2 separate regions of the Homo sapiens genome follow, and region 1 is linked to region 2. The links come from fine-mapping of genetic effects on gene expression. A gene starts in region 2. The other region holds a variant in brackets. All regions are shown on one strand. Distances are between the middles of the regions. Region 1 has its middle 15 kb from the start of MIR4635. Region 2 holds the start of NKD2 (NKD inhibitor of Wnt signaling pathway 2).

The links. PIP is the estimated chance that this variant, and not a neighbour inherited with it, causes the effect. A credible set is the group of variants that fine-mapping cannot tell apart.
Region 1: its variant is the best candidate, but not a certain one, in a credible set for the expression of NKD2 in sun-exposed skin (GTEx, PIP 0.62).

Annotation. Positions count from the first base shown.
Region 1 is chr5:1,045,374-1,049,671 of GRCh38, reverse strand. No RefSeq gene overlaps it. Among named protein-coding and RNA genes, the nearest start is that of MIR4635, 15 kb to the left of the region's middle. The variant CTCAT/T (reference allele first, on the strand shown) is at 1,822.
Region 2 is chr5:1,007,040-1,011,408 of GRCh38, reverse strand. NKD2 (NKD inhibitor of Wnt signaling pathway 2) reads right to left here and starts at 2,607. Exons shown (of 10, transcript NM_033120.4): 1 at 2,327-2,607; 2 at 2,195-2,230; 3 at 1,849-1,928. The coding sequence starts at 2,351. RefSeq lists enhancers at 2,580-3,345, 3,346-4,111.

The sequences.
Region 1 (4,298 bases), 38 kb before region 2:
TGTGAGAGACAGAGCCGCCCCTTCCCCGGCAGGTCCACTCCTGGTGTGTGGCACAGCCTCAGGAACGGGTGCACGCAAGTTCACAGCAGCCAAAATGGATGCAGCCCGAGAACATGCTGAGTCCATGTGGGCCGTGCCTGCTGCAGGCCTCTCAGCTAGAACCAGGAGCCAAGCTTGGAAGCCTCACGCTCGGGAGGAAGCTAGACACAAAGGGTCTCACGCTGTGGGACTGCACTTAACACGAAATGCCAGAGTGGGCCAGGCACAGAGGCAGGGGGTGCACTGGCGGGTGCTGGGGGTGGGTCAAGGGGAATGGGGGGAGATGGGGGATGGGGGGAGGCTGCTTACAGGGTATGGATTTCTTTTTGGGTGAAAATGTTCCGAAATGGCTGTGGTGAAGCTTATGTGACTGAACATGCTGGAACACTGCCTCGTGCACGACGAAGGGCGAATTGTGTGTGTGAAGCTGCCGGGCACCGTGTCCAGTGGGCCTGACACATGGTGGACAGGAAGGGACACGGCACAGGAGGGTGGCGGGTCCTGCTCTGGCTCTCGGGTCACAGGAGAGTGACCGTGAGAGCAGCGTCGTCCTCGGACCCCCGAGGGGTGAGTGCTGGCTGCACCCAGGCATCCACACCCGGGACTCAGAGCACGGGAGCGGCCGGCTGGGGTGGGCCTACTGTCCTGAGGGCCAGATGCTCACAAATTCCAGCAGGGAGGTTTGGAGACCCACTGATGCCTACACATCTGGGACCAGGGCCCAGCCAGAAACCCCTAGGTGTCCCCTTCCCTGGGACCCCAAAAACCAGGCTGCTTCCTAGCCTTGGCCGGTGCTTCCCAAGGAGCAAGAACTCGGCTAGAGCAGTCACCCACTCATTCACACACTTAACTCGCCCATTCACACGCTAACTCGCCCACTCATTCACACACTAACTTGCCCACTCGTTCACACACTAACCCACTCATTCACAAACCCACCCACTCATTCACACACTAATCCACTCACACACTAACCCACTCATTCACACACTAACCCACTTGTTCACACACCCACTCAACTCACCCACCCATTCACACACTAACTTGCCCACTCATACACTAACTCACCCACTCATTCACACACTTACCCACTCATTCGCACACTCATTCACTAACCCACCCACTCGTTCACACACCCTCATTCACACACTAACGCCCACTCGTTCACACATTCACCAACTCATTCACACATTAACCCACTGACACACACTAGCCCATTCACTAACCCATTCACACACTAACCCACTCGTTCACACACCCATTCACAAACTCGCCCACTCGTTCACACACCCACTCATTCACACACTAACCCACCCACTCATTCACGCACTAACCCACTCATTCACACACCAACTCACCCACTCATTCACACACACCCGCTCATTCACAAACCCACTCGTTCACACACCCACTCACACTAAATCCCTCATTCACACACTAACCCACTCATTCACACACTCACCCACTCGTTCACACACCCATTCACACAACTCATCCACTCATTCACACACCCATTCACAAACTCGCCCATTCGTTCACACACCCCCTCATTCACACACCCTCATTCACACACTAACACACTCACACTAACCCATTCACACACTAACCCACTCGTTCACACACCCATTCACACACTCATCCACACAATAACCCACCCATTCATGCACTAACCCATTCACACACCAACTCACCCAGTCACACACTAACCCACTCATTCACATACTAACCCACTCGTTCACACACCCACTCACACACTAACTCCCTCACACACTAACCCACTCA[CTCAT/T]TCACACAATAACCCACCCACTCATTCACACACTAACCCACTCATTCACACACCAACTCACCCATTCACACACTAACACACACTAACCCACTCGTTCACACACCCACAAACTCCATTCACACACTAACCCACTCATTCACACACCTATTCACAAACTCACCCACTCGTTCACACATCCACTCACACACTGACCCATTCACACACTAACCCATTCACACACTAACTCGCCTACTCGTTCACACACTAACCCACTTATTCACACTAACTCATTCACACATTGACCCACCCACTCATTCACACATTCACACACTAACCCGACACACACCCACATTCACACACGAACTCACCCATTCACACACTAACCCACTCGTTCACACAACCATTCACACACACACTCGTTCGACCATTCACACACTAACCCATTCACACACTAACTTGCCCATTCACACACTCACCCATTCACACATTCATACACTAACCCACCCACTCATTCACACACTAACCCACCGACTCATTCACACACTAACCCACTCATTCACACACTAACTCATCCATTCACACACTAACCCACCCACTCATTCACACACTAACCCATTCATTCACACACTAACTCACCGACTCATTCACACACTAACTCACCCACTCGTTCACGCACTAACTTACCTACTCATTCACACACTCATTCACACACTAAACCGACTCATTCATACACTAACCCATTCACAAACTCACCCATTCATTTGCACACTAACCCACTCATTCACACACTAACCCACTCATTCACACACTAACCCACTCATTCACACACTAACCCACTCATTCACACACCCACTCATTTACACACTAACCCACTTGTTCACACACCCGCTCATTCACACACTAACTCACCCATTCACACACTAACTCTCCCATTCATTCACACAAACACCCACTCATTCACACACCCACTCATTTACACACTAACCCACTCGTTCACATACCCGCTCATTCACACACTAACCCACTCATTCACACACTAACTCGCCCATTCATTCACACTAACTCACCCATTCACACACGAACTCATTCACACACTAACCCACCGACTCATTCACACACTAACCAACTCACACACTAACTCACCCATTCATTCACAAACTAACCCACCCATTCACACGCTAACTCACCCATTCATTCACATAGTAACTCACCCACTCCTTCACACACCCACTCATTCACACACTAACCCATTCACACACTAACTCGCCCACTCGTTCACAAAGTAACTCACCCACTCATTCACACATTAACTCATTCACACACTAACCCACCCACTCATTCACACACTAACTCATTCACACACTAACCCACCGGCTCATTCACAAACCCACTCATTCACACACTAACCCACTCATTCACACACTCACCCACTCATTCACACACTCACCCAGTTGTTCACACACACTCATTCACAAACTCACCCACTCATTGACACACTAACTCACCCACTCATTCACACACTAACCCACCCACTCACACACATTCATACACTAACCCACTGACTCATTCACACACTAACCCATTCATTCACACACTAACCCACTCGTTCACACACCCATACACACACTAACCCACTCACACACCCATTCACACACTAACCCACTCATTCACACACTAACTCGCCCACTCGTTCACACACCCACACACTAAATCCCTCATTCACACGCTAACTCACCCACTCATTCACACACTAACCCACTCGTTCACACACCCACTCATTCACACAATAACATCCACTCATTCACACACCCACTCATTCACACACTAACTCGCCCACTCATTCACAAACTCGCCCACTCGTTCACACTAACCCCCTCATTCACACACCCTCACACACTCTCACACACTAACCCACTCATTCACACACTAACCCACTCGTTCACACACCCATTCACACTCATCCACACAATAACCCACCCATTCATGCACTAACCCACTCATTCACACACCAACTCACCCACTCAGTCATGCACTAACTCACCCACTCATTCACATACTAACCCACTCGTTCACAAACCCACTCACACACTAACTCCCTCATTCACACACTAACCCACTCATTCACACACTAACTCACCCACTCGTTCACACACCAAAACACTGACCCATTCACACACTAACTCGCCCACTCATTCACACAAACTCACCCACTCGTTCACACACTAACTCACCCACTCATTCACACTAACTCATTCACACATTGACCCACCCACTCATTCATACATTCACACACTAACCCGACTCATTCACACACTTACCCACTCATTCACACACGAACTCACCCATTCATTCACACACTAACCCACTCGTTCACACACCCATTCACAGTCGTTCAGCCACTCATTCACACACTAACTCACCCATTCACACACTAACTCGCCCACTCGTTCACACACTAACTCACCCATTCACACACTCATTCATACACTAACCC
Region 2 (4,369 bases):
GCCTGCGACTCTCCTGGACGTCAGTAGGATCTGTCGCAGGGGGAACAGCTGCCAGGTGAGAGGAACAGCAATGTGGCAGGGAGGGCACTTGGCCAGGTGAGGGCGCACCTGGGCCCTGGGGTCTCCATGCCAGGTGGGAGGAGTCATGGCCAGAGGCGGAAAATACAGAAAGGCAGCACTTTTGTCTGAAAGCTGAAATGTATTTAATTCACAGGACAGCCTTTGATTCTGAGTTTGTTCATTTTAACTTAGAAAGGAGTTTTCTTTCATGAAATGATGGCAAAATTAGAAGGTAACAATCCAAGCAAGCCCCAATTCCCAAGCTATTCTCTAAAGAAAATGTCCCAGTGTAGAGTGGCAGGTCTAAACGCCCACGAGCAGCCCTCACGCTGACATCGTAGTCACATGAGGAGCACCTGCATTTTCCAGAGCGCACTGGCCTTGCCCCATGGCCCTGGGAGCTGCACTTCATGGTGAGGGCGCTGGCTCAGGGATTTTAAGGTTCATGGTGCAGCGCCTCCCAGGGAGAAGGCTCCAGGCCAGTGGGCCAATGGACAGGGGCCGGCCAAAGCCCTGACCACGAGAGAGGTGAACGCCCGCCCACCCCAGGTGCTCACATCACTGACTAATCATACCAGGAGCACCTGGCTGCTAAGTGGCACCATCCACTCACCAGCAAGCCCCTGTGCAAATGTAACTGGCAGAGAGAGCCAGATTGGGGCGGGGACAGCTCCCTGGATGACCTCACCCTGGTCTCCCTGTCCCGGATAGAGGCTCACAGGACCACCCAACTTACTGTACCTTACAGCGTGCTTCCCACCATCACAGGCGTTAGATGGTCACTCTCAGGAAGCACCAATCCTAACTCTATTGCATGTTAATTTCCAAGCAGACCTAAGCCCCTTCTCAAGACAGAGCTGCAGAAAATGTCTCCAAACACACCCAGAACTTTTTTTAATCAACTGCCAGAACAATGTCTTTCCAAAAAGGAAACTGATTGCGTGACCCGGCATGTTCTGTGTCTGGGGACCTCTGGGGACAGTGGGGGAGGAAGCAAGGGGCAAGTGTGGGCCTGGCCACCTGGTGGGGCTGTCTGCACCGATACAGTTCACACTGACACTGATGACCATCAAATGTTAGCTTTCTCACGCTCAGCAAACATGCAGGTCTAATTTACCCCAGGCCCTTCCAGGGCCCCAGACCTGGACAGTTCTCTGCTCCTGGACATAGCACCTTCCTCACCCACCCTCAGGGCCGCCTGGCTCTTGAGCCAGCCTTGCAGTCTCTGCAGCCTTGCCACAGCTGTGCAGATGTCCCTCTGTCTCCTGAGCCTCTAGCAGGCCTGTGGTCACCCCTCCCAGAGATGGGAGGCACCGAGGCCTCTGACTCTGGCCATGTTTGCTGATTGAGCACTGAGGCTATGACCAGTGATGCCCCAGGTCTGTAGCTCCCACCCCTCCTCCAACTCCTCCAGCTCATCCAGCCGGGGTACTGCATTCCCGCTCCCCGGGACCCCCAGCCCGGGACGTCTAGGTCCAGCCCCTCCCACTCGCCCAGCTCCTCCAGCCCGAAACATGGAGCCCCCACACGGCTCCCAGCCTAGGACAAGGAATTCCGATTCCCCTACCCGCCACTCAGCATGGGACACTAGCAAGGGCTCGCCCCACGGGAGCCCCAGACGTCGTGGAGGCTGGGGAGAGACTGGCTCTCCTGGCCCCCGGTCACTCGTGCGGCCATGGCGGCCCACGTCTCGCCTGTCCGCGGGCGGGCACCAGGAACAGCTCTGACACCGCTCCCCGCCCCCGGGCGGGTGCGCAGCGCGACCCCAGCCTCCGCCCCGCCGCCTACCTGCTTGTCCCGCGCGCGCCGCTCCGCTTCCTCCGCGCCTTTGCGGCCGCTCGCGTACGCGGACGCCACGAAGCTGTCCCCTGCGGTCCGGGGGCGGACGCGCGGGAAACCCGCACCGAGGAGGGAAAGAGACGCGCCGTGAGCCCCGCGGGCGCTGCGCCTTCGCTGTGTCCCCATCGCCTGGAGACCGCGCAGGGGCAGGCGTGGGGGTCCCGCGCGCTCCTGGAGACCCGCGGCCCCGTCCCCCCACTGCTGGCTCCAGGGCAGGACGCGCGCGGGCTCCTAGCTCTGAGGGTCCCGGGCCGGGTCGCCGCCCCCCGCCCCGCCCGTCGGCTCGCCCGCTCACCTTCCGGGCTCTCTCTCCGCTTGCGGGCGGCGGCGGCTGCGGCACGGCGGGACGCGGGGAGAGGAAAACGACAGTGAGAGGCGGCCCCACGCCCGCCCGCCCGCCCTCCCGCCCTACCGGCCCGCGGCTCACCGTGCTTCGACTGCAGTTTCCCCATCGCCGCCGCCACGCCCCGCCGGGCCCCGCGCTCAGGTGCAGGGCTGAGTTCTGAAGCCGGGGCCGGGAGCCCGCGGGGGCCGCATGGGCCGGGAGCAAGCTAGGGTGCCGGTAGGAGGTGAGGGAAGATGGCTCCACGCCGCGCGGGGGCCGGGGGAGCCAGGGGGCGCCAGGTACGGCCGCGGGGCGGAGGTGGGGGGCCACCGGGCGCAGGGCGCGGGGACAGCGGCGGCAGCGACGGCGGCCCGGCTCCCTCTGAGCGCGTGCGCCCGCGCCGGGGCTTTAACCGCGGCCCCCGCAGCGCCCCCGGCGGCCGCTGCCCGCAGCGCATCGGCCTCGACCCCCGTTCCCAGCCTGGAGCCCCACCAGCGATGAGGACCCGGCCCGGCCACCTGTGGGGGCGGTCAGGTGCTGCAGCGGAGCCTGGCGGGAGTCAGCTCCGACCCCTCACCAGGCCGTCCTGGGTCAAGGGATCCCCAATTCCAGAGGAGCCTGAGGGCACCTCCCTTTGAAAGGGAGGACCCGCCTCCCTTGGCTGCTGGAGAGGGGGTGGGGGTGTGGGCAGCCCAAAGGGGGGTGGTATCCGGCAGGACTAGATCCCCGCCCTCTCCTGGCGCTCCAAATTGATGAAGAACCAGCGTTGGCCCCCCCCGGCCCCGGCTGGAAGGGCCCTGCACCCCCTCACTTTGTCCTTGGTTTGAGCAGGGTCTCCTCCGACCTGTGCCTTGAGGGTGTTGGAGCCTCCCAGGAGCCCCAAGCCTGGCCACCTGCGCTGCCTCCTCCACGTGTCCAACTCAGTGGCTTCAGCTGCTACCTCCCTGGCCTCATCTCAAGCTCCTCCAGCTGGCTCTGGAGACCCGTCCCTCAGTACCCTTCACTGGACCCCCTCTCTGCCTCCTACCCTGCTGGGTACCTCAGGGCTCTCTTCCTTATTTACCTTCAGAGGAACCTTCTTCCCTCACTTCCTCCTGGAACCCTAACTTGCTCCTGTTTCTGGGACATTTCTCCCTTCCCTACCCATGACTCTCCTCCCTGCCACGCCCTGTTGCATTGATACATTGTATCTCCCCAGCCTTTCAAGAGCTAGCTCAGCATTTTCCCCACGGGCTGTTGCCACGCCCACGTCTCCAACCTCAGTGGGTGACCCCACCTTCTGCCAGGGCAGCTCCCGTCCCTGGAGTTGGAGCTCCGAGGCTGGCGGTGCGGGACCCCTCACCTGCCCAGCTCCGGCCCTGCCAGGCCTCCGCTAAGCTGGCCCAGGTCCCACCCGGTCTCTCTGTTCCCACTCCCCTGGCTGGAGCCCTGTCTCACAGCTGAGCAGCGCAGCTCCGCGGCTGCCCAGTGCTGACTTGCACCTCTGGAGCTGACGTCCAGCCAAGCCCTTTCACTCCAATTACTGCCTCCCATTCTCAGACCATCCTCGGGGCAGATGCCGCCATCACACGATTTTACAGAGGCCTAGGCTGCTCAGTGGCAAAACGGAAAGTTAAACCAGAGGCCCGCCCCCCACCCCAGCAGCCTCCCCTGCTGGCTGTCCGCAGATACATGAGCTGTGGGCGAGCACATGAACAAGGGCACACGGACCCTCCTGGGAGTAGTCTTGCCTGCGAGCCATTCCCACCATCCTCTGAAGAACCCTAGTGGAGGGGCCACTTCCTGCAGGCAGACAGCTCTGGCACCTGGTAGCAGGGTTGCACCCGGCCAGGCCGTGCCTGCGATGGGCTCAGAGCGCCCTTGTGTATAGCGTCCAGGCGTCCAGATTCAGGGCCAGGGCCACCCTCCCAGGCTCTTTCGGCCCCTCCTCTCTCCCTTGCGCTACCCCAAGTGGACTTTAACTCCCAATTTGGAAGGTAACAATGCCATCTTCTGTGGTCTCAGGGTCCTAGTGAGTGTGTGAGGATGATAGTGTTACATGTTATGCAAAGTAGCACAGCCTGAGGATTGCAGCCCTTCCCGTGCCTCTAAATCCTGCCCTTACATGAGGACCGATGAGCCACCCTGGGTGAAGATCTGCTGGTG